Linked DNA regions of Homo sapiens: region 2 is linked to region 1. Evidence: fine-mapped expression QTL. A gene starts in region 1. The other region holds a variant in brackets. All regions are shown on one strand. Distances are from middle to middle. Region 1 holds the start of NUDCD1 (NudC domain containing 1). Region 2 overlaps NUDCD1 (NudC domain containing 1).

Region 1 (8,000 bases):
ATAAAAGAAATCAAATTACCAGAAGCGCCTCAATTATGCTTCACTATCTCTAGAAATGATAGTTTTTAAACAAAATAATCTTTTTCATCATCCTCAAGTAATTCCTAATGAAAAACTCATCATGTGAACTATTGCAAAAGCCTCCTATCTGCTGTGTGCAGTCATCTCATCTTCCAAACTCAACCTCCACAGAGTCTGAGGTAAGCTTTTCAACTCCCGTATCTGTTCACGTCCCTTGTACTTAAAATGTGGTACACATACGCCATGGAATACTATGCAGCCATAAAAAGGAACACAATCATATCCTTCAAAGGGACATGGAAGGAGCTGGAAGCCACTGTCCTCAACAAACCAACGAAGGAACAGAACACAAAACACCACATGTTCTCACTTGTAAGTGGGAGCTGAATAATGAGATCACATGGACACAGGGAGGGGAACAACACACACTGTGGTCTGTCAGAGAATGGGGTAGGGGGAGGGAGAGCATTAGGAAAAATTGCTAATGCATGCTGGGCTTAATACCTAGGTGATGGGTTGACGGGTGCAGCAAACCACCATGGCACACGTTTACCTATGTACCAAACCTGCACATCCTGCACATGTACCCCGGAACTTCAAAGAAAAAAAAAAATCGGTCGGAGCAGTGGCTCAGGCCTGTTAATCCCAGCACTTTGGGAGGCCGAGGCAGGTGGATCGCGAGGTCAGGAGTTCAAGACCAGCTTGGCCAAGATAGTAAAACTCCGTCTCTAATACAAAAATTAGCTGGGCTTGGTGGCGGGCACTTGTAATCCCAGCTACTCCAGAGGCTGGGGCAGAGAACTGCTTGAACCCGGGAGGCGGAAGTTGCAGTGAGCTGAGATCGCGCCACTGCACTCCAGCCTCAACGACAGAGACTCCGTCTCAAAAAACAAAACAAAAACAAAAAGAAACAAACAAAAATTAGCTGGGCATGGTGGCGGGCGCCTGTAATCCCAACTACTCGGGAGGCTGAGGCAGGAGAATCGCCTGAACCCGGAAGGCAGAGGTTGCAATGAGACGAGATCACACTACTACAGTCCAGCCTCCGCAATAGAGCAAGACTCAGACTCAAAAAAAAAAAAAAAAAAAAAAATCTTCAAATGGCACCTGATATCCTGCAGCTGTACATCCCAAACACAGAATCTAAGATTAACGCTGATGAAATGAGTACGGAACAAGGACAACTTTGTGAATTTTTTCTAAAGTTAAAGTATTCAATGGATTGTTTATTGTGAGATTTTGCTTCCTGCTTTTTTGGTGTTAAAATATCCTTTTGTTTATGAAAAGATAGATGAGTAAATGATAGTTTTTAAGAAACATCTCCACCTAGTAAACAGAAAAGTTGGCAGAACTACAGCAGCTGAGTTTTATTTTATATTGTAATGGCTCAATACAAAAATGTCAGGGAAACACTGAATGACCGGAAATCCAAGAAATCCAAAAGGCAAACAAGGCCCTCACTGATTTATTTCCTCTCACTTTCCCAGACGTTTTGCTCCAGCAATATAAGAGTGCAAGGATGTCCAGCATACAACCTACTAATTATTTCCCTTTCCTCATGCTTTCCCATGAATGGAATGACCTCAACAATTTCTTCTCTTCTTCATATACTCATTTTATTGAATACATCCTATGTGCCAAGCACTAGATATAGGGTAGTGAACAAAAGAAAAACATCACTGTTTTCAAGGAACTCATAGTCTAGTGGAGGAAACAGACAACAAATCAAGATAGAATTTAAAAGGCCGATAAGTACGTCTTATGGAGAATGCAATGACGAAGCCCAAAAGTGAAGGCAGGAAGGCTAGTCAGGAGGCTACTAGAGTTCAGGTAAGAGATAACTCTGATTTGGATTAGGGTGGAGGCCTAGAGATATCAAAATGTGGAGCTGACCGGACTTGCTACCAAGCAGACAGTGGCTAAAAGAAATAAACCCCAAATGACTCTGGCACAAGTGTCTCTTGGTACCAACCTGGGCTAGTCTAGTCGGCTAAAGGATAAGAGACCACACGGAGAAAAGTCAAGAGGAGACCATGTGAAAGAATCTTAAACAAGCTTATAGTCTGAGACCCTACCCCCACCCTCCAAACATATGAGGAAGTCCAGCCAAATGAGCAGAGCTTCCCAGCAGATCCATTACTGAACAAGGATGCATCAATGAGCCCAACTAGGACTAGAAGAACCACTCAGCTGACCCGTAGACTTGTGAGCAATAATAACTGCTTCTTGTTTTGAGACACTGAATTTTGGCTTCACTTTCTAATGCACTAACTAAACATGGTGATACCATCTACTGACATGGGGTGACTGGAAGAAACACGGTGGCAAAGAGGAAAAGGAAAAAAATAAAAAGAAAAATCAAGCTTATCCTCTCTCATCCTAGTCAACTCTTAACCTACCCTTCAAAGCTCAACTTAGATATTAACTCCTCCAAGACGCCTTCCCAGATCCCCAGACTAGTTTAGGAAAGATATTCAAGTACTACCATTGTATTTTGTACATATCCCTATCACTGCCTTCCCATATTGTTTTACAATTATCTGTTTACAATTTTCTTCCTAACTAGCTAATAGTCCTCTTTTGTTACGGAAGGTGTCTTGTTCATTTTGATATTATCAGGACGTAACACAAAACAGGTACTCGGTAAATATTTCTGAATTTAATAAATCAATTAGCATAAACTTATTTTATACTTTAATGTCTGTTATTATAATTAACTGTAGATCACTATTTCTCAAAGTGTGATCTCTGAAAACATGCATCAGAATCAGCAGGGGTGTGAATTTTAAAATGCAGATCTCTGGGCTCTATCATAACGAAAATGCCGTTAAGTTGTAAAAACAAGAGTAAGGATATTCTACCAGCTACAGATAAAGCAAGGAGTAGCAGTGTGGGAGTAAATCCACTTTTCCTCACTATCTTCTAGAGATGTTCTCTACCAGAGTTCTTAATGTGCCAGGAACTGAGTAATTAAAAATGCTATGACTGGAATGTAGTTTCTCTTCTAAGAAACGGCTCTCGGTCAGAGGAAACAGGAACTGGGGGTCCTCCAAGGAGGTGTGGTTTCTCAACGCACACGTTCACAAGCGATGCTCCAGGAGGAAGGAATGTTCTCAGCGTCCCCCGAAACAGAAGCCAGGCTGTGGACACACAGCAGCCAGAGCCCCAGGCACTACCCGCACGCCAGCCCTCAGACCTCAGACCTCAGAGGCTGGGCTGCTGACGGAGGGGGCCCAGGGTCCCGTTACCGAAGAGCGCGCGAAGGCGGCTCCCACCGGGTTCTGGGATGGGCATCATTCCCCAGAAGCAGCGGCCTCCGTGAGTCCACGCAAGCCGCCACGGTGGCTTCGCTTGCCAGTCAGAAAGAAAGAAATTGCGGGAAGGGTCAGGCCGGAGGCAGCCGAAAGGGGAAAGGAACGGAGTACGAAGGGCGCCGCCGCTTCCCACCTGCGTCAAGCTCCAGCTGGTAACAAGGCAGCGGCTCAAGAGAGAGCTTGTAACCCTCGAAGCGGGGATCCAACAGAGGTCTCTTCACCCGTAGGGAGCAATTAGCCGCCACCTCCATCGCTTTCCAGGGCCGCAGCGTGAGAATTAATAAAGCCCTTGTTGAAAGGTCCGCGCTTCACGCCTCGCACAGAGACTGGGAAGCGGCGTGGTTCCCATCCCAGAAAACACTGCGGTGCGAACTGCCTTCTGGGAAATGTAGTGTCCGTGAAAAAGTTGAGACTGTTGCATGCTGGGCTATGTAGTTCTCCTGGTACTTAACGCGCGCGCGACGGCAAGGTCTGAACTCTGTTACCCAGAGGCCCTAGCAACCAGGAGGCGGCCCGCGCTGGTTAAATTCTCACATTATAGGCAGGGTGGCGAGACCCCGCCCCGGAAATGCGTGTTCTAGCTTTCTGTGTGCTTAGGTGCCCGAGCTACTGAGGGTCTAAGTCCGGGCAGCCGAAGAGTGTGGTAGGTAACGGTCCTCAGCGCAAGGGTCATTTCGTCGCTGGGAAGGGACGGCCCTCGCCCGCGGTGATGGTGGTGAGCTATGCCCGTGGTCCTCAGGGCCGGGACCCGGGCCCAGCCCAGGCTCCTTTCGATGTACTGTCTTTCGTTAGCGTCCCCGACCCGCGCTCGCGGGCCTGTAGGGCTCTCCGACAGGGCGTGCTACCGGAGTTGGCCTGAAACCAGTCCTCGCTTTGTTTTCTGGCTCCTCCTCTCCCGCCTCTCCCGCTGTCTCCGCCCTGTTCTATTTTCCCTAAGAATGTCTGAACTGGGAGGGATACCCTAGCGCCCTTGTTTTACCAGTGAGAAAACTGAGGCCTTTAAGAATTAAGTGACTTGTCCAAGGTCACTATCCGTATTTTAGGAGCCAAGACGAGATCAAGTTCAATATTCCAGGAGTGGTACTGACTAGACCTTGTAGTTATTTTGAAAATGTTAGCCTCCAATTACAAAAGCAAGCATTTCCTAGTTCTCACTCAACTTCTCCTTTTCCCTGTTCCTCTCAAAAAAGAAAAAAAAAATCAACTCTGGTAACTCATTGCCAGTCTGAATTTTCAATAGGCCAGATGGAAGACAACAAAAGTAATCTCAAGTTAGTGACAGATTAGGTGGGAAAACGTTAGTTTACGCCAAGTTTTATTTAATTTAAACTTTTAAGTGGCTTTAACGCTTTCAAAACCTAACTTTCCTCTTCTTTCAACATCATTTTGGTTTGGGTTGTCTGTTTTTACTGACAATTGAGGACTTTGTAAGTTAGGAATTAGTTTGAGATTTGTTTTCTTCTTATCCCACCAGCAGTGTGTGTGTAAACACACACATCCACACACTTAGGTTTAGCAGTTGTAATTGTGGGTTCATCCTAGTGAAGAGTAAAGCAAAACACTTAGAGCCTTATCTAGTAATTTTATTTTTTTTGATTAATTAATTTTTTTTTTTTTTTTTGAGACAGAGTCTTGCCCTGTCACCCAGGCTGGAGTGCAGCAGCGCAATGTCGGCTCACTGCAACCTCTGTCTCCTGGGTTCAAGCGATTCTCCTGCCTCAGCCTCCTGAGTAGCTGGGATTACAGACACCTGCCACCAAGCCCAGCTTATTTTTCTATTTTTAGTAGAGACGGGGTTTCACCATCTTGGTCAGGCTGGTCTTGAACTCCTGACCTCGTGATCCACCTGCCTGGGCCTCCCAAAGTGCTGGGATTACAGGTGTGACCCACTGTGCCCGGCCTGGTAATTTTATTTTTTTACTAATAGTATTTAATCTTTTTTTGATGTTTAGTATGTATGACTTCTCCCAATTTTTGGATGCAGTCTCTGCAGAAGTGATCGGCAGTTATGTTCAGTTTTGGAGCTCCTAGGGTCAAAGTACTTGAGTTCAAATTTTGCCTTTCCACTTTCTATCTCTGTGCCTCAGTTTCCTCATCAGTAAAATACAGATTATTTTATTAATATAAATATGTAACAATACGTTCTGGGAATTAAATGTGATGTTTAAAAAAAAGCAAACCCACACTGCATTAGCCCAGTGCCAAGCACATAAGTGTTTAATAAAGAGTAATGATATTATTAACACACTTGAAATGTATCACCCCTTCAGTTAATAGAATGGTAAACATGTTAGGATGCCTGCCTAGAGGATTTAGCAGAAAATGCTTTGTAAATGTTCTATATCTGAAAGTACATGTTGATGTCCAGGTTAGCAAGATGAACAAAGATGCGCAGATGAGAGCAGCGATTAACCAAAAGTTGATAGAAACTGGAGAAAGAGAACGGTAAGTAATAGATTGTGTTAATAAATTACATTTCACCGCCTTTAATAGTTAGCTTGTAAGAATCTAAACAAGAAATGAAACATGTCACTGGAAAGAATTACAATTGAGATTATAAAAGTTTCTATTCCGAACATCTGGAAAAAATAATTTAGGTTTGTTAAGTATTGCAGGACTTGGAGGGAAGTGGTGATGTAGAAAGATGAGCAAGATATGGCTCTTAAAGAGTAATTTGATGGAGAAGAAAAAGTACATACCTGAATTACAACTGGAGACATAATGTTACCTGGGTTTTAACAGGGAGACAATGTTGTGGAACCAGCTTCATTTACCAAGCTCTCAACCTTGGAGCAGCAAGTGCTGTTTCCACTCTCTAAAACATTCTTCCTTCTCTTCCTTTTTAGCTAATTCTAGCTCAACTATCAGGTCTAATTTATATATTGTCTCTTCAAGGAATGTTTTTAAGTCCCAAATACCTTGTTCCATCATAGCATTTAATCAACATTGTGTTCTAACAATCTACTTGGCTAGTTTGTATCCTCCAGTATAATCTAAGTTCTTTAACACCAAAAACAACATTGTATACCCAGCATCTAATGCTTTGTTTGGTTCATAATTGGCCACGTAAATATTTGCAGAATCAACAGGTTTAGAAGTACAAAGAAGGGGCTGAGGAATCAAGAAAGGCTCCCAGAGGCAGGGTTATAAAGTGAGTAAGACAAATATGTATAAGGAAGAGGCAAATATGTATAAGGAAGAGGGGGAATCTTTCAACTCAACCCGGGCATTCAGGTGATCATGTAAGATCTCACACAATAAGAAAAAGAGGTGCATCTGTTGCTGACTTTATTTTTGGATGATGGGAGTCATTTAAAGTTTTAAGAAAGGAAATGACTAGATCACATTTACACTTTAGGAATCTTACTCTGTTGGTGTGGAGCTTGGACTTGAAGGGGACAAGATAGATGGCAGAAAAATGAGGTAGAAGATTATATAGGGTTGAAAATGGAAAACTCCAAAAATTGGAAGGAGACCTTAGAATTTTAATAAAATGTAGAAACAGCAACCCTCAAAATGAGGAAGGAGGCATCGATAACTGCCTTGGGTAGCTTTAGAGGATAGTACTGCTGGTAAGGAGTACGGATTGTATGTTGTTTTTTTTTTTTGTTGTTTGTTTTTGATTCATGCAGCTTCAAGTTACTGAGTTTCTATCATATGCCATGCCCTGTTAAGGTGTTGGAGGTAACAGTAGTAGACAAAAATGGAGACTTTGTTTTCACAGAGCTTGCATTCTAATGGGAGGAGACAGATAAAACTGTGTAATAATGTCAGATGGTGATGAGCACTAGAGGAACAATAAAGCAGAAAATAAAGAGGTGTAATATTTTAGATAGAAAAAACAAAGAAGAAATCAGAAGGAGGCCGTGCATAGTGGCTCACGCCTGTAATCCCAGCACTTTGGGAGGCTGAGGCTGGCAGATCACAAGGTCAGGAGATTGAGACTATCCTGGCTAACATGGTGAAACCCCATCTCTACTGAAAATACAAAAATTAGCCATGCATGGTGATGGGCTGTAGTCCCAGCTACTCAGGAGGCTGAGGCAGGTGAATCGCTTGAACTCGGGAGGCGGAGGTTGCGGTGAGCTGAGATCGCGCCACTTCACTCCAGCCTGGGTGATAAGAGTGAAACTCCGTCTCAAAAAAAAAAAAATCAGAAGGATATGAGGGTGAGCAGGGACTCTTTAAGTTCCTGAGATAGGAGCTTGCCTTTCATTTTTGAGGAGCACAGGGATGCTAGGGAGACTGAGTAAATTGGGTGAGGGAGAGTGGAGATTAAGTCAGTGGCATAGCTGGGGAGAAGGCAGATCATGAAGGATCATGTAGGCTGTAATAAAGTCTTGGAGTTTTATTCTGAGTAAATTGGGAAGGCACTGGAGGTTTTTGAGCAGCAGGAGAAGAACTAAGTGTACAAGGGAAGAAGCAGGGAGACAACCTAGAATGCTATGGTAATATTCTAGAGAAGAGATGATGGCTTGAACTAGAGTAGTAATGGCGGAGATAGTGAGAAAGGTGAATTCTAGGTATATGTTTTAAATTGAACCCAATAGGATTTGCTCATAAATTGGATGTGTAGTGTTAACAAGGCAGCTGAGTGGAAGGATACTACAGAGATTCCTAGTCTGAGGAACCAGAAGAATGGAATTGCCATTCTCAGAAGAAGAA
Region 2 (16,650 bases), 91 kb before region 1:
GCCAGCGAGAAGTGGAGAGGAGAGAGGAAAAGGAGGGGGACAGATGAGAGTACAAAGGATGAAGGGGAGGAAGAGAGAGGGAGCAAAGAAGAGAAAGACAAAGAAAATTAGAAGTTCTAGATCATGAGAAACTCGAGTACATGAACATTCCTGCTAATGCTTTTCCCCTGTTCCAAGGCCCTAACAGGCCTCACATCCTTAAATATAATTTGTGATATTTCTCCTGGGCCCACTGCAAGGATTTTCAACTAGACTGTGGACATTTAAGCACTCGTAATTCTTATTATTGGATTAAGTTATTCATTATGGAACATTTATCATTTATGAATGATAAACTCAGAGGTGCTAATTTAAACTATAACATGTTCAGAAAAACTTTAAATATCAAAATGTACTCCAACGCTAAAACCCCTTAGATGGCACATGTCTCATAGGGGTCCTGAAGTCAGTAGATACATTTTTCTAGGATCACTGCAATTTTGGTGAATGCACTCCTAAACAAGATATGTAGAGTGTTTTCTGTGGTTTTCATAGACTGCATGTTAACAAGAACAAAAATGCTGACAGCTTAAAATCATTTCCTATAGACTCACATAGTCTTAGATGAAACGTAAATATCAGAAGAAAATAACAAAAATAAAAATCAAGAAAATGTTTTGTCCAAATAACTCCTCATAATATTATAGGAAAAGTATTTCCTCTGAGAGTTTTTGGCAAGAGAGGGTATCACCACTTTATCTGGTTTCCCTAATAAAATTGTAGGAATAATTTCCCTACCATAAAATTCAAATTTCTTTAAAAATATGTTGTTTCAACAAAGTTGAAGGCAAAAATACTAATACATTTTTAGAAATCCATTCATATTTAGCATGGAAGATGATCTCAGAATCTTTTTCTTAGCTCTTTTCTCATGCTGTTGTTGTTTCCATATGGCTTCATTGAAACAGAATCCACAAGCTACACAACTCACCTATTTAAAGTGTATAATTCAAGGGTTTTTAGTATAATCAGAGTTGTGCAGCCATCACCACAATCAATTTTTGTCACCCCCAAAATAAGCCCTATACCCATTAGCAGTTACTTTCCATTCCTTCCCCACTGTAGCCCATAAGCCTTTGGCAAGCACTAATCTACTTTGTCTCTATAGATGTGCTTTTTTTTTTTTTTTTTCTTAAAGACAGGGTCTCACTTTGATGCCCAGGCTGGAGTGCAGTGGTGCAATCATGGCTCACTTCAGCCTCGACCTCCTGGGCTCAGGTGATCCTCCGACCTCAGTCATGTGCCACCATACCTGGCTAATATTTGTTATTTTTGTGGTAGAAGTGGGGTTTTGCCATGCTGCCCAGGCTGGTCTCTAATGATCTGCCCTCCTCAGCCTCCCCAAGTGCTAGGATTATAGGCATGAGCCACCATGCCCAGCGAGATCTGCCTTTTCATATAAATGGAATCCTACCATCTGTAGCCTATTATGACTGGCTTCTTTCACTTAGCATAATGTTTTCAAGGTTTATCCATGTTGTAGCATCATTTATTGCTATACAATATTCCACTGTATGGATAAGCCACATTTTATTTATTCATTGGTCAGTTGATGGCTGTTTGGTTTGTTTATACTTTTTGGTTACTATAAACATGTGTGTACAGGTTTTTATTACTCTTGGATATATACCTAGGTGAGGAATTACTGGGTTATATGGTAACTGTTAACCTTTTGAAAAACTGCCAGACTCTTACAAAGCAGCTTTCCGTGCTGGCTGCAATCTCAGTTATTTCTCCTCACACCTGATTCCAGCTGGGTTCCTGAGGCACCACTAATGAACTTCCTATTATATCAACCTACGTAGGGGTATGCTTTATGCTTATATTGCCTTGTGCCTCCACTAAGATATCTTCATCCTTCTCTTTTTCCTCTAAGTAGGTGTATATTTGTAGATAAAGGAAAAACACTGAATGCTTATTTACTACTTAGTAAAAGACTTCAGAAGAATAGTTTTTTGAGAGTTCTTCATTTCATAAATTTCAGTGACTGTATTAATTTTGTAGGCCAAACTACATGTTCTTTGTGAAAAACATAGATGGCAGATATGAGAACAATATTTATCCTAATGTCAAGAATATGTTTAATCTTCTTCAATATTCACCTGATATCATTTTTTCCTGCACTATGAGATAGATTCATATTGGATATTTTGGCAAGCATTAAAAGTGAATCTCAAACACTTAAAAAAAAGTCAGTTGCAGAAGTGGAAAAAATTTAAATGGCTTAAAAATGTAATATGTTACAGATTTTTTTTTTCTCCTGTTTGGAGTAAAAAAATTGTAGACTGGGTGCATGGAAAATACTGAAGTCAGAAAATAGAGCTTCAGGATTGAAAGTACATTTACTTTTATCTTCCCTCCCTGGTACCACAGAAACTTCTTCCAAATTTATTTTCATTAATATACATTTTTGAGGAGTTGCTAAACTATTTTAAAGTGAAAAAAAATTCCCCCATTTAAAAAGCACTTGTAACTTATCTATTAAACCCCTATGTGGATTAAAATATCAGTAATTCTCATCCATAGATTCTGATGTAAAAATCTAGAATAAAGTCTCAATGTGCACAGTATAATCATACATTAAAAGAATTTTCCACCACAGAATCAGGCCTCTTCTGAGTACAAGTAACAGAAAATCTGACCTAAACTGACTTAGGGAAAAAGAAAACTTAATGACTCCCATTATCCAAAATTCTAAGAACAGCTGGTTTTAAGAATTGCTTGGTAGGACTAGATTATATTATCAAGGTTCATTTTCTCAGTCTCTTAGTGCCATCCTTTGTTGGCTCCCTATTTTGAGAAGTTCTCACCTTACTGTAGTGACAAATGGGGTTTTGTTTATATCCCTTTATTCTTACATCCAGTGGTAAGCCTTTGTCCCAGAAATCACTGCAAATTCTCACTGTGAATCACTGTTTCTAAATGGGTCAAGTGCCCATTTATGAACCAGTCACTGTGACCAGGGATTCTGCTTTCGCAAAGTACTGACTGGTTTAGCCTTAATAATGTTCTCTATACATGGTACCAAGGACAGAGTCAGTAACACACAAATATATTGGCTTAGAAAGAAATTATGGTATACTTCCAAAATAAGGGGAATGGGTATACTTCCAAGATAAAAGGGAAGGGATGCTGATCCCCATGATATAGGAAACATGCACTAAAATGCCATTGCAACACAAGAAAAAAAAAATTAAAAAGCAGAAATTAAATCAATAAGAAAATTTTGATAAGATTCAATACTTAATCTTTAAACAAATTTAAAAAGCATTATTGAGGCGTTGATGTGCAAAATGGAATGCTTAAGGTATACTTTTTAATAAAATTTAACTTGTGTATATATACACTCACGAACTACCACAATTAAGATAATGAAGATATCTCTTTACCTAAAATGTTTCTCTGCCCATTTATAATCTTTCAAATCCCTCCCGCTCAGGTAATCACTGATCTGTTTTCTATGTGTTTGCACTTTCTAGAACTTTGAGTTGAAGCATACAGTATGTACTCTGGCTTCTTTCACTCAGCATAATTACTTTGCAATTCATCTATGTTGGGTATATTGATACTTTTTATTGCTGAGTAATAATCCATTGCATGGACATAGCACAATGTATTTAGCCCTTCATCTGTAGATGGATATTTGACTTGTTCTGAGGTTTGATTATTATGAATGCTGTTGCTCTGTTCAAATCTTTGAATAGACATATACTTTCATTTTTCTTAGGTAAAAGAATGGGTAAGTGGAATAGCTGGGTCACATGGAAGATCCATGTTTAACATTTTAGAAAACCACTAAACTCTTTTCAAAGGCGATTCTACCATTTTACATTCCAAACAGCAGTGTTTGAGAGCTCCATTTGTTTCATACCTTTGCCAGCATCTGGAATGGTCAGTCTTCAATTAAAGGATTTCAATAGCTATGTAGTGATACCGCATTGTGCTTTCAATCTGCTCATTCCTAGTGACCAATAACGTTGAGTGCCTTTTCACATGCTTACTTGCCATTCATCTTGTATGATGTATCTGTTCAAAATTTTGGCCCAATAAAAAATTTACATATTTGATTATTTTATTATTGAGTTCTGAGGGTTCTTTATACATTCTGGACACTAGTGCTTTATTAAATAGTGATTTGTAAATGTTTTCTCCAAATCTGTGGCTTTTCATTGTCACAACACTGCCTAAGAACGTAATTTCTTAATTTTGATGAAGTATGATTTGTCACTTTTCTTGTTTGGTGTCATATGCAAGAAATCTTTGCCTAACCCAGCCTTACAAAATTTTTCCTTTATGTTATCTGCTAGAAGTTGCACAGTTTCAGGTTTTACATTTAGGTCCATGATCCATTTTAAGTAAATTCTGATATAAGGCTGTGTTAGTTTCCTATGGCCGCTGTAATGAATTTACCACAAATTCGGTGGTAATGCATTCTGTCACAGATCTGAGGCCAGAAGACCAAAATCAAGGTGTCAGCAGGGCCATTCCCCCTCCAGAGGCTCTGAGGGAGAATCTATTCCTTGCTTCTTCCAGCTTCTGGTGGCTGCCAGCATGCTCTAGCACTCCTCGGCTTGTGGCCTTTTAAACACCATCTTCACATAAGCTTCTCCTCTTTGTGTTTGTAATTGCACTCTGCCTCTCTCTTGTAAGGGACACTGCAATTAGATTTAGGGTCCACCCCAGATAATCCAGGATAATTTTTCCATGTAAAGATCCTCATTGTAATCACTTCTGCAAAGACTCTTTATCTTCATAAGGTTATATTTTCATGTTCCAGGGATTGGAACCTGATATCTTCAGGTGGCCACTATTTAGGCTACTACAAAGGCAAAAATGAATACCCAATTGTTTTTGCGCCACTTGTTAAAAATATATCTTTTCTCCATCAAATTATCTCTGCATTTTGAATTGCCTCTTCATTGAAATATCTCTGACTAAAATCAACTGACCATATGTGTCTGAGTCTCCATCTGGACTCTTTATTCTGATCTATGGATCTATTTGTTGAAATTGGTGCCAATACCACATTTTCTTGATTACTGTAGCTTTACTGACCATCTTTATTTTCTTTTCTGTGAATTAACTGTTCATATCTTTTGTCTGCTTTCCTTTTGTATAACTTGTTTGCTTTTTTATTAAATGATAGTTCTTATGTTCTAGATTTTAACATTCATACATTACGCATAAGTCACATATCTTTCCTCAGTCTGTTGCTTTATCTTATACCAAAAGTAGGTCATAAAGAAATTTTACATTTTGTAATGATCAAATTCATCAATCCTTTCGCTTATATTTTTGCCTTCTGGATCTTAAGAAGCCTTCTCAACCTTGAGAATATAGATATTTTCTTCTTGTAAGTATAGGACGATTAAATGTGTGTCTATTTTGTTTACTAATGCAATGATGCTACTCTTTTTACTGCTTCATGATGTATCTTGATATCTAGTTGGGTACCTTTTACCTTGGCTCTTTTTGTGCATTTATTCTTTCTTACCAATTCTAGAAGGCCTTACTTCTCTTTGCTTTATTACTTCTATACTTCCATCATTGGGCTTTTGTTTTTTACCACTCAACTATTATTACTTGTTCAGTAAGACACACTTACTACTAAGAAGTAATTAGAATATTCTTCCAGTAATAATCAGTGATAAGTATCAGTTTTGCCTTCTTATATGACTTGCCACACATAAACTTACCATCTGTTCTTTTCTATAGTTAATAACACAAAATATTAGAAATTCCTGTGTAATGATGGTTTAACTTGTTCTGTACAGTCATTTCCCTTTTATGTAGAAATTTGATGAGTATACTTTATTTAAGAGTATTTTTTTTAACATTGTTAACCATTCCTAATTTCTTGACACTCTGATTCTTTTTTCTAACTCTTCCCATTGGCAACTCCTCTACCTGACTCTTGTGGGTAGTCCCCAAGGTTCTAGCCCTGGTCAGACTTCCTTAGCAGGAAAGCAACCACTCTATGCCACCCTCTCCTCTTTTTTTCCCTAAAAAGAAATTTTATCTGAAAATCATTAAAATGTAGATTGTCTCTTTATCCTTAGTAATATATTATCCTTAATACTGAAAAAATCATGCTAAGGTACATAGTTGATGCTTAAATGTGTTAAAAGAGTGAATATTGTTAATGACTCTTAATATGCAAAACACATAAAATACTACTTTATTACTATCATAAATATTTTATAAATTCCTATTTAAAACATGATAAAAATCAACAAAAATACAAGGTACTATATTCTTAGCACTTGTAGTATATATCTCAATGTTCTAAGTATATGTACCTTAGAACATTGTTTAAATGTTTATGGAATCCCTGAAGCATTTCAGGAAAATAGCTTGAAATCACGGCTCTAGACCTATTCATCTTTTAACGTAGGTCAACATGCGACAATATTTAGGATTAATTATCCTGAGAGCTTTCAATTCAACATTAATCATGCAAAAAAATCACATGCACAAAGAATATTGATTACTAAAATTGGCAATATATACATAGTCATGGTTAATTAAGCACCACATTTTTATTATACATTTTTCTTATGTTCCCTAAGAGGATATTATCTTTGGGGAAAATTTTAGAGAAAATTTAGATCTACTTTCCCATCATAAAGATTTTTAATAATTCACTATTTAAATGGTCTTTTGTTTCATGAAGTTTTACAACAATACTAAAAAGTTCTGGAAATATCACTGTTTTGGTTTTTGGTTACTATACAGTTTTCCATCTCTATGATCTCGTGATGTTTGGTATCTAGTCTCTCTTTCCTAATACGAATAGAGTACTATTAGGACTCCAATTGTCAATACCAGTCCTCAGGACCTTTCCTAACTTTCTACCTAGCACCTCAATACTCTCTAGGAAACTGCAATCTGACAAAGGGTTTAGAACATGTATGCAATCCTCATCTTTTTTCCTCCTCTCTGTCATTCATTCGTTCATTAAAATTTAGTTGAGTCAAATACTTGCCCAGACAGGCAAAAGATATGTTAGGAACAAAGCTTTTCTATCTTATATTTCTTATCTTAATCTTCTGCCTCTTAAATGAAGGTCTTAACTTCCTTATTAAAATATAAAATCCAACTTGAGGTTTATATAAGATACATATCTTGAAATGGTATAAAAAGTAATAAAAATTTCCAGGTACATACATACTAAAACAAACCTGGAAAGGTAAGTTTGAAAAAACAAAATTTGTGGCAAGAAACTATAACATATAAACAGGATTATTTTGTTGAAGTTGTTAGAAAAATAAAGAGAGCCACAAGGATAAATTATAATTTGTCCTTGTGTGGTAAGATTGTTCCATCAATGGCCCCCAATGAGTCATACCATCCGCTGTCAGCTTGTGTAGTCCCCTCATTCTGACTCTAGACTTGGCCATGTGATTTGCTTTGTCCAATGGAACATTAGTAAATATGATAGATGTACAGGATCGATAAGCTCTTGCATATTGGAGCTTGCTCTCTTAAGATGTTTTCTCTACTATGGAAAGAAGATTCGTCTAGTCTACTGGAGGCTGAGAGGCCCTGTACAGCAGAGACAGCCAACTCACTGAATCGTGAAAAATAATAAAAGTCCTTGTTTTAAACCACTGAGTTTTGGTGTGGTTTGTTATGCAGTGATGGATAATGTGAAATCTTATCTCTCTTTGTCTATGTCTGTGGCAGAGCAACTGGCTAAAAGTTACATAAAGCTATACTTAATTTGAAAATAATAATAAAGGTCTCTCAGTAAACTTAAAAAATATTAGACCTGCTGTTCTCTAGCATTTCCTCCTCCATGTAGACTCAGTTATTCAATCCACTTAAATACATATGTACAATACTCAACATTTAACTATTATCCTGTACATCTTATAGGTACAGCCTGTAGCAACTAATCAACGAACAGAGTACACAATAAATATTTTTATTTTTAAACACTGAATTGTACATCTTTCA[T/C]ATAAAACATGAGATTCTAGCCTGTTTTAAAAAATAAGTATACTTGCTAGTACTATCTTCACTCTTTTTTTTTTTCAGAAGCCAATGTTCTCTAAATCTGCAGCTTCATTCCACAGCTTTACAGAATCATAATCTCTTGAATATATTTCCAATGTTATTAAAAAATAAAAAATCATACAAGATATATTTAGCACATTAAAACTTAAGAGGTTACAGTATAACTGTCCAGACCTCCAGGTACCACTGAATACTTTTCCAGTACAAAGAGGCCAATATGTTAGAATAATTAATTCTCTGTATTTACTTTTATTAAAAAGAGGTTTTTGGTAGTAAGAACAAATAATCTCTCATTTGTTGCCTGAAATCCTAAAATAGGATCATTGGTTTCTAGGCTTGCTACTTGCTGCTTAGCAACCTGTCCTACTTGCCTGCCTTCCTTTCTGTTGTAAAGTACAGTGGACATGGGAGCAGGCTGACGATAGATGAATACTCGACGAAGGCACTCACAAAGGGCTGCATACGAGTAATTTGGAGCACAGGCAAAAAATTTTTTGTCTCTCTTTGATGCTTGGACATAGCCTGCCAAGAATATGAGACAAACAAAAGAAAAACTATATATTAAACAGAAGGGGAAAAATGATGATTTAACATTTAATATTTTGCAATGTTTATTACAAATTAAAATGCCCAAGTAAAATATATACCATAAGGTATATAATTCTGAATCATTAACGATTAGCCACAATCAGTCTCTCCCATCTGGTACAAAAATACGACTTTAATTCCTAAGGAACAAAACAGATATGGCTTTCTCGCTTCAAAAAAAGCGTAATATAGCTTCATTTAATTTCCACGAATAATTCGAACACTAAAATTCTAAAATCTAAAACACTCAATACATGACAAAATATCTTTAAGTGCCAATTTAATATTTAGCTTCGTGAGTTACGGATAGGGCATCACAGAACCATTTTTTTCCTCTTAAATAAATTGGAAAATGTGTATAGGATACCATCATAAAGTTATTTTAGTTTTCTGTTCATAATGTATCCCTGAATGTACTAGTATTCGTGATGCATTCTCTTATTATCCCTAAAATGTTAGTGATATTTTTATACATCAATACCAACACTGTAACTGGATTTTTTTGTACTTTTAGCCCCCACAAGTAGAATGTTGATCACTATAACTTCAAAAATAATTTCAAGTCTCTAAACTGAAAAAAATCCTTATCTTAATTCATGTACATGTTTAAAAAGTATCTTTTTGGATTAAAACAACATTTATATTCCAAAATATAAATTATGATTTTTAGATAGTGACATGGTTAGCAAATGTTAGGTATTTATGATCATGTAAAATAAGAATATAACATTAATTAAAATTGAGATCTCATCAAACAATGAATAAGCAAAGGAACTACTGAGCACATGCAGATCAATACTGTTTTTAAAAATATTAAGCAGGTTTGAAGCAGGAAAAGTGAAGATTTAGATACCTATTTAAATAGTTTAAAGTAGCTATCCAGGCTAACCTTGACAGAATAATGTATATAATATTTCAAGAGTACATATCTAATATATGTTGATTTAACTTAGAATTAAGCATAGAATTCCCCTATAATAGGGGATTTGGGGATACAAATAGAACATCTGAGCATCTAAAGATGATATGATAGAGCTTTCTTCTGACCAAAGTATAGATAATTAAAAAATAGCATTATAGTAGGGAGGCTAAAAATTATATGGTTAAATTAGTTAACCAAACTTTGTACTTCAGGTCATAAAAATCCATTTGGAGTCTGAACCAGTTTAGCAGCCTACATTATTAACTATAAGGGATAATTAATAAATTTCTTCTACAATTAGGGTTGTGCACATATAGCCATCAAAATACGTAACTTCACTTCTTGCTGCCTGTTTAAAATAACCTTTCAATAAAGCAACAACTGTGGCTAATTCACATAAAAAATTTCTGTCACACAATACTAATGCATTTTGACAGAAAATCAATGATTGCATACGTCTATAATTAAGTAGTTTAAACATTGTCAAGCCCTAATTTTAAAACTGATTTTTTTCCTTTTATCCTACCAAATAAATTTAATTTCTGCTTATCACCGCTTTCCATAAGTATTTTCATTATAATGGCTCTCTTTTGTACTTAATTTTGACAAAAGATGTCTCCTAATGTGCATTACACCTTAGGGGAATTCTATGATGTTTCTGAAGATTACTCTGAAGAAACTTGAACACCAGTTCCATGTAGGGTATTATCAAGCTCCTTGCTCAGACTCCAGTATTATATGGCTTACAGAATTAGAAAAAGCAAATGACTTATTAGAATAATTCAAGTGGTTAGATAACCACTTTCATTTCTATTCTGTGTTGATCTTCTGTACAAGCATAAAAACAGATTAGTCTAAATGTTCCAACAGTGCTAACACTCACAACTAGTACAAGCAAACAAATCATAGCGCAAATCAATCTAAATGTAATCAGGACAGCTCAAATTAAAAAGAAAAAAAAGAAATGAACTTTAAATGAATGATGACTGTATTTCTGATTTCATGGAAAATGTCAAAGAGTTTGCTTTATACCTAAAGCATTGAAAGTTGCGATGTGCTCCCACATATCATCTTGTTTGCTGGAGTGTGGTTGCCAGAGTAGGGCATCAACATCATGGCGCAAACAGAAGCAGGGCATTTCTTTAGGATCCACTATGACAGAGAAAAGGTACTGGTTGCTTCCAAGATTCACCTAAAAAGTGATTTAAAAAAAAATTTACTCAACAACAAATTAATAATAGCAACAATAACAATGGCAGAAGCTGACAGCCAGCATTAAGTGTCAGCAACTGTTTTATACTTTTTATATACTTAATCTGATTGACTCCTCATAATATCCCTGAGATAAATGTGCTACTGTTATGTTCATTTCAAAGCTGAGGAAAGTGATGCACAAGGCATTTAGGTAACTTGTCGATGGTCAGCCTGGCCATAAGTCATGGAGCTGAAATTTGGACCCAGAGTCTATGTTCTTAATCACCACGTGATATACCACCTCTTAATTGTTAGTAAATAGTTTAAAACACGATATAAAGCAGGGGTCCCCAGTCACTGAGCCGCAGACTGGTACCAGTCAGTGGCCTTTTAGGAACTGGGCCGCACAGCAAGAGATGAGCAGCAGGCAAGGGAGCATTACTGCCTGAGCTCCACCTCCTGTCAGATCAGCAGTGGAATTAGATTCTCACAGGAGGGTGAACACTATTGTGAAATGCACATGCAAGGGATCTAGGCTGTCTGCCTTATGAGAATCTAACTAATACCTGATGATCTGAGGTGGAACAGTTTCATCCTGAAACCATCCACCAAGCCCCCACAGGCCCATGGAAAAACTGTCTTCCACAAAACTGGTCCCTGGTGCCAAAAAGGTTGGGGACTGCTGATATAAAGCACCAATTTTATAAGCAGACTATTTTTAGGCCATAGAATACACACATGAAGTTTACTAATGCTAACTTGTAATAATTACCAAGAACAATGACACTACCAGAATTTATGAGCACACTCTCATAACATTTATAACCAGGCATGTTATAAATACTAATCTTAACAACTCGCAAGGCTATTATTATCTTCATTTAAGGGATGAAAGAACAGGCTTGGAGAGTTTGAGTAACTTGTTCTAGGCTAAAGAGAAATATCACAATGCTGGAATTCACACTCAGATGTTTAAAACTATTTACTTAAACGTACTGCTTAATTAAAGTATCAATGTCAATATGTCAATAATGTCAACATTTGTTATTGTAACACATCAATAATTGTTACTGCAATATTGATGCCTAAAGAAATGCATTTTAATACAAAATCATCAAATTGAAACTCACTGAATTTCATCTACAGCAATACTTTTTCTAAATGAAGACATGTTGTAAGGATAGTCTTCTTTATGAGAAATGTTATTATCAGAGTTGAAAATACGAAACAGAATACCAACAAAAATCACATCAAATGTAGAAAATATAAAATATGCACAGTACTTATAAATATGTAATTGATTCTAGGAGTTTGCAAGCAGACTGGAGAACCGTAAAAGATTGGGTTAAAGTAAGAAGTGGAGACCTGACCTGAATTCAACAGGGAAAGCTGTGAAGTGGCTCTCCAGCAAGGGGACCTATTATTGGTAAAGCTGTGACAACACAGGCTATTGGTCACAGGAGAATACAGTGTCAGAGCAACCCATCTTCTGCTCCCCAGCAATGCCAGGGAAATAGGGCTTTTTCGTAGAGCCAGTGCTTGCTCTCTACAAAATAAGGGGAGAAGGCCAGCACACAGAGACCACAGACTATTTCTTTTCTCTCCTTACTCCCGATGATCAGTGGCTAGATGAGGTTTATTTTCAAAGTCACCACTACCTAACTGGCCTTTTATTATTATGTTTGACAGACCTAACACTGCTTCAGCTCTCTTCCCTGTACTCCAACTCTGATACTCTATTTTTTTTAACCAAGGGCTTTCACAGAAGAAAAATAAACAACAGCTAAAATAAAATACAAGTTGAAACAATATTTTCACAACAATACATCTACTTTCATGAGCCAAGTGCCTAAAGAATGTATTGAATATTATGAGGATTAATATAATTGAATGATCTCTGGTCCATCCATACTTGAAGAGACAGCAGTGAGAAAAGAATAGAGGACCTTGAACCACGAAGTGAAAGGTGACCACCAAGGGAGATCAATCATGAAAATAAGAGGATAAGAATGAAGGTAGGTGCCTTATTATGAGCCCCTCACTCTGACTTAGATGTTTCTTCACTTCAGCAGCCACTTACCTTACGCATATTTCCATTATGGCGACTGTGTCAAGTGTTGTTAATTGTGAAACTAGCAATTTCATACAGCTTGTCTTTGCCATACCTTTGACATAGCATTCTGTTTGGACTCCTTGTATTTTTTTTACCTGATAGATTCCCACTTATCCTCTAAGACTCAATTCAACCATCAGTTGCTCTCAGAATTCCCCCACTCTCGTGGTTATATGAGCTGCTTGAATTCTGAGAACTCCAGCATCATGTATGTTATTCCTATCAAATTATTTATCATATTATATTAGATTATTAATATTTTTACATACCACCTGTGGCAGGATGAATAACGTCCCCCAAAGATGTCCACATCTAAATCCCTTGGAACCTGTGAATAAGTTACCTTATATAGCAAAAGGGACTTTGTAGATGTGGTTAAGTTTAAGGTCCTGGGATGGAGAGATTATCCTGGAATATGTGGGTAGACTCAATGTATTAAGAAGTATTCTTAGGGAGGGAGGAGGGCCACAGACACAGAAGGTGAGATAACAACAAAATCAAGGGGATAGACAGAGTTTAGAAGATGATATACTGCTGGCTTTGAAGACACAGGATGGGCCCGGCCACAAGCCAAGTAATGGAGGCAGCCTCTAGAAGTTAGAAATGGCAAGGAAATGGATTCTCCCCTAGAGCCTCCAGAATGAATGTAGTCCCTACAAACCACTTTAGGACTTCTGACCTCCCAAATTGTAAGAGAATAAGTCTGTGTTGTTTTCAACCACTACACCTGCAGCAATTCGTTGCAGTAATAACAGCAACCTAACATACCACCCATCTCACAACACTAATTCTTCTTAGGAACTAGAAGTCTGCCCTTTTTTCTCCAAATTGTAAAGAAATTTTTTTAAATGAATGTTATGTAAAAAGTGATTATTTCTGTAATATCTTCACCAAGGCTAATCTATCTTTAGATTTGGGAATTATCTATTTTACAGTTAGAATAATTGGCTGAAGATTCTGTAAGGCAAAAATCTCATAATTAGGTTCTTAACCTAACAAGAGGGTGACTAGGGTCAAGAGCTTCTAGACTTAGTACATAGTTCTCTGTGCCTTTTAGTTCTCACTTCCAGAAATGTTAGTTTCTCAGTAATTTCCCTCTATAGCTTTCCACTGTTTGGAAAAAAAAAAAAAAAAAAGGTCCACATTGCCTTAAATGGCATTTTGAAAGCTTTTCGAAACCTGACCCCAGCATACTTTTCAATATTCACTATTACTTTCCTTAAAATATAACATTTAGCAAAACTGGATCACAATTTGCAAAACTGTCTCCCCTATTTCCCCATTCCTTTATTCATGCTTTTTTTTAACCTGTTGCATATCCTGTCCATTATACACTCTATGCCATATGCAAATGGCATCTTCTCCTCCAAGGAAGTTTTCCCTAATTCTAATAAAAAGAAATTGTGTATTGCAACTAATTATTTATACTTTTCCTATAGAGTTTGTCTCTTCATTTCACTTATATGCTCTTTGAGGGTGATAGCTATGACTTTGGGTAGGATATTTAAACCATTTTATTCCCCTTATAAATATGGTAACTACTACTCACTTCACAATTGTTATGATGAGTAAACAATATATTTCAAAGCTTAGAAAGAACTTAATAAGTGTTCATGTTGATTATTACCTGTCTAGGAAAGCCCTTAATAAGTATTAATGTTAATTATTACCCTTCCAGCATTCTTAAAACATTTTGTTTTGTATATTAATGGCATTTCAAATTTTAAGAATGAGATGAGTAACACTGACAGAAAAGCATAGCAGCTTTCAAGTAATCTTCCCGTAGCTCACAGCTACAGCTCTTATACAATTTTATGTCTCAGAAATGTGTAAATAGCTATAAAAATAACATACACTTATTCTGTCTTAATCCCAGCATATTTGAGACAAATTTCTATACTCTTGTACCATTTCAAAAATGAGAAATACAGAATTCATTGTTCTACTTGTCATTTTGTCATATAAATTCTATTTTTATCAGTGGTTACAAATGTATGCTTATTGCTTTCAATTTTATATATTCCTGTAATGCATATATTCCTCAGTAAATGGATCTGCCCCTGAAAAGGGACAAAGTCATGTTTCAAATAAGATTTGGATTTTTAACATATACTCAAAACCAAGTACCTTAAAGTTTAAAATCCAAAGTAAACAAACTAGTCAATTTTTTGATGGCAGTAACTACATATAATTTACGGAGAGACATAAGAATCCCATTAAAAAATGAGATATATAAAGAATTGTTGAATTCTTTTTTTTTTTTTTTTGAGATGGGGTCTCACTCTGTCACCCAGGCTGGTGTCCAGTGGCACATTCATGGCTCACAGCAGCCTTGACCTCCTGGGCTCAAGCAATCCTCCAACCCCAGCCTCCTGAGTAGCTGGGACGACAAGCACACACTGCCATGCCTGGGGAATTTTTTTATTTTTTGTAGAGATGAGGGGTCTCACTATGTTGCCCAGGCTGGTCTTGAACTCAACTCAAGCAATCCTCCTGCCTCAGCCTCCCAAAGTGCTAGGATTACAGGTGTGAGCCACTGGTGCCTGGCAAGAATTGTTGAATTCTTTACTTCTTTCTGTATGTAGTAAGAGACTATGTGATACTCATTTTACTTATTAAATAAATTCTAGCTTCCCTATTTTTTACTTCAAAACTAAGTATTTCATACAGCTAAATAAAATAAAGATTTTGCCACTGCCAGATGTTTGCTACTTCTTAGGTTGGCCAGATGCCACAAAAGGAAAACAATTCAAAGATTCCAAACTAAGAGTGGATAAAGAAACTGAACATGAGCATTATTTTAAGATAATGCCTAAAAGGTGTTTGGCTTCATTTTTTTCATGGTGGTATTAGAATCTCTTGATAGCTGTTTATGCCTTTCACTATTATTTCCTGCCTCACTGCCTACCTGGGACTCCCAGCATTATGCTTAACAGGAGTAATGCGAGCAGACATCTTGGCCTGTTCCCAGTTGTAGCAGAAGCCTTCAGTCTTTTACCATGAAGTATGGTGTTAACTCTAGGGTTTCTGATGAGGCAGTTTCTTTCAATTCCTAGTTTGCTCAGCATTTTTATCATCAACGAATGGTATTTTTTTTTCATATTCTTTTTCTGCAACTACTAGGATGATCAAATATTTTTCTTTAGTCTGTTGATATGGTGAATTATACTGATTGATGATATTTGAATAACAAAATCAGCTCTGAGTTCCCAGAATAAACCCTACTTGGTCATAATGTAATTTTCCTTTTTACTTATTGATGGATTTCATTTACTAATATTTTGTTAAGAATTTTTGTGTCTGTATTCATGGAGGATACTAGTTTTTTCCTTCCTGTTTTCTCATCTTTTAATGTCTTTGGTATCAGGGTAATGCTAGCCTCATAAAGTAAGTTGGAAAGTGTTCCTTTCTCTTCAACTTTCTAGAAGTTTGTAGAGAATTGGTATTGTTTCTTCATTTGGTAAAATAAACCAGTGAAGCCATCTGCGGCTGGAGATTTCTTTGTTGGAAAGTTTTTAAAAATGAATTTAATCTTCTTCAACAGATATAACTAATAAGGTCTCATCTATTTCTTTTTTTTTTTTTCTTTTTTTTTTGGAGAGAGTCTCGCTCTGTCGCCCAGGCTGGAGTGCAGTGACACAGTCTCGGCTCACTGCAACCTCTGCCTCCCAGGATCAAGCAATTCTCTGCCTCAGTCTCTCGAGTAGCGGGGATTACAGGTACCCACCACCACGCCTGGTTAATTTTTGTATTTTTAGTAGAGACGGGGTTTCACCAT

Evidence for each region. PIP is the estimated chance that this variant, and not a neighbour inherited with it, causes the effect.
Region 2: its variant is fine-mapped to the expression of NUDCD1 in skeletal muscle (GTEx, PIP 0.94).

Annotation. Positions count from the first base shown.
Region 1 is chr8:109,330,425-109,338,424 of GRCh38, forward strand. NUDCD1 (NudC domain containing 1) reads right to left here and starts at 3,663. Exons shown (of 10, transcript NM_032869.4): 1 at 3,469-3,663. The coding sequence starts at 3,586. ENY2 (ENY2 transcription and export complex 2 subunit) reads left to right here and starts at 3,923. Exons shown (of 5, transcript NM_020189.6): 1 at 3,923-4,050; 2 at 5,704-5,780. The coding sequence starts at 4,045. RefSeq lists enhancers at 3,355-3,404, 3,535-3,584, 3,767-4,689, 3,955-4,204.
Region 2 is chr8:109,234,725-109,251,374 of GRCh38, forward strand. NUDCD1 (NudC domain containing 1) reads right to left here. Exons shown (of 10, transcript NM_032869.4): 9 at 10,598-10,757; 10 at 6,195-8,577. The coding sequence ends at 8,285. Among named protein-coding and RNA genes, the nearest start is that of NUDCD1, 91 kb to the right of the region's middle. The variant T/C (reference allele first, on the strand shown) is at 7,999.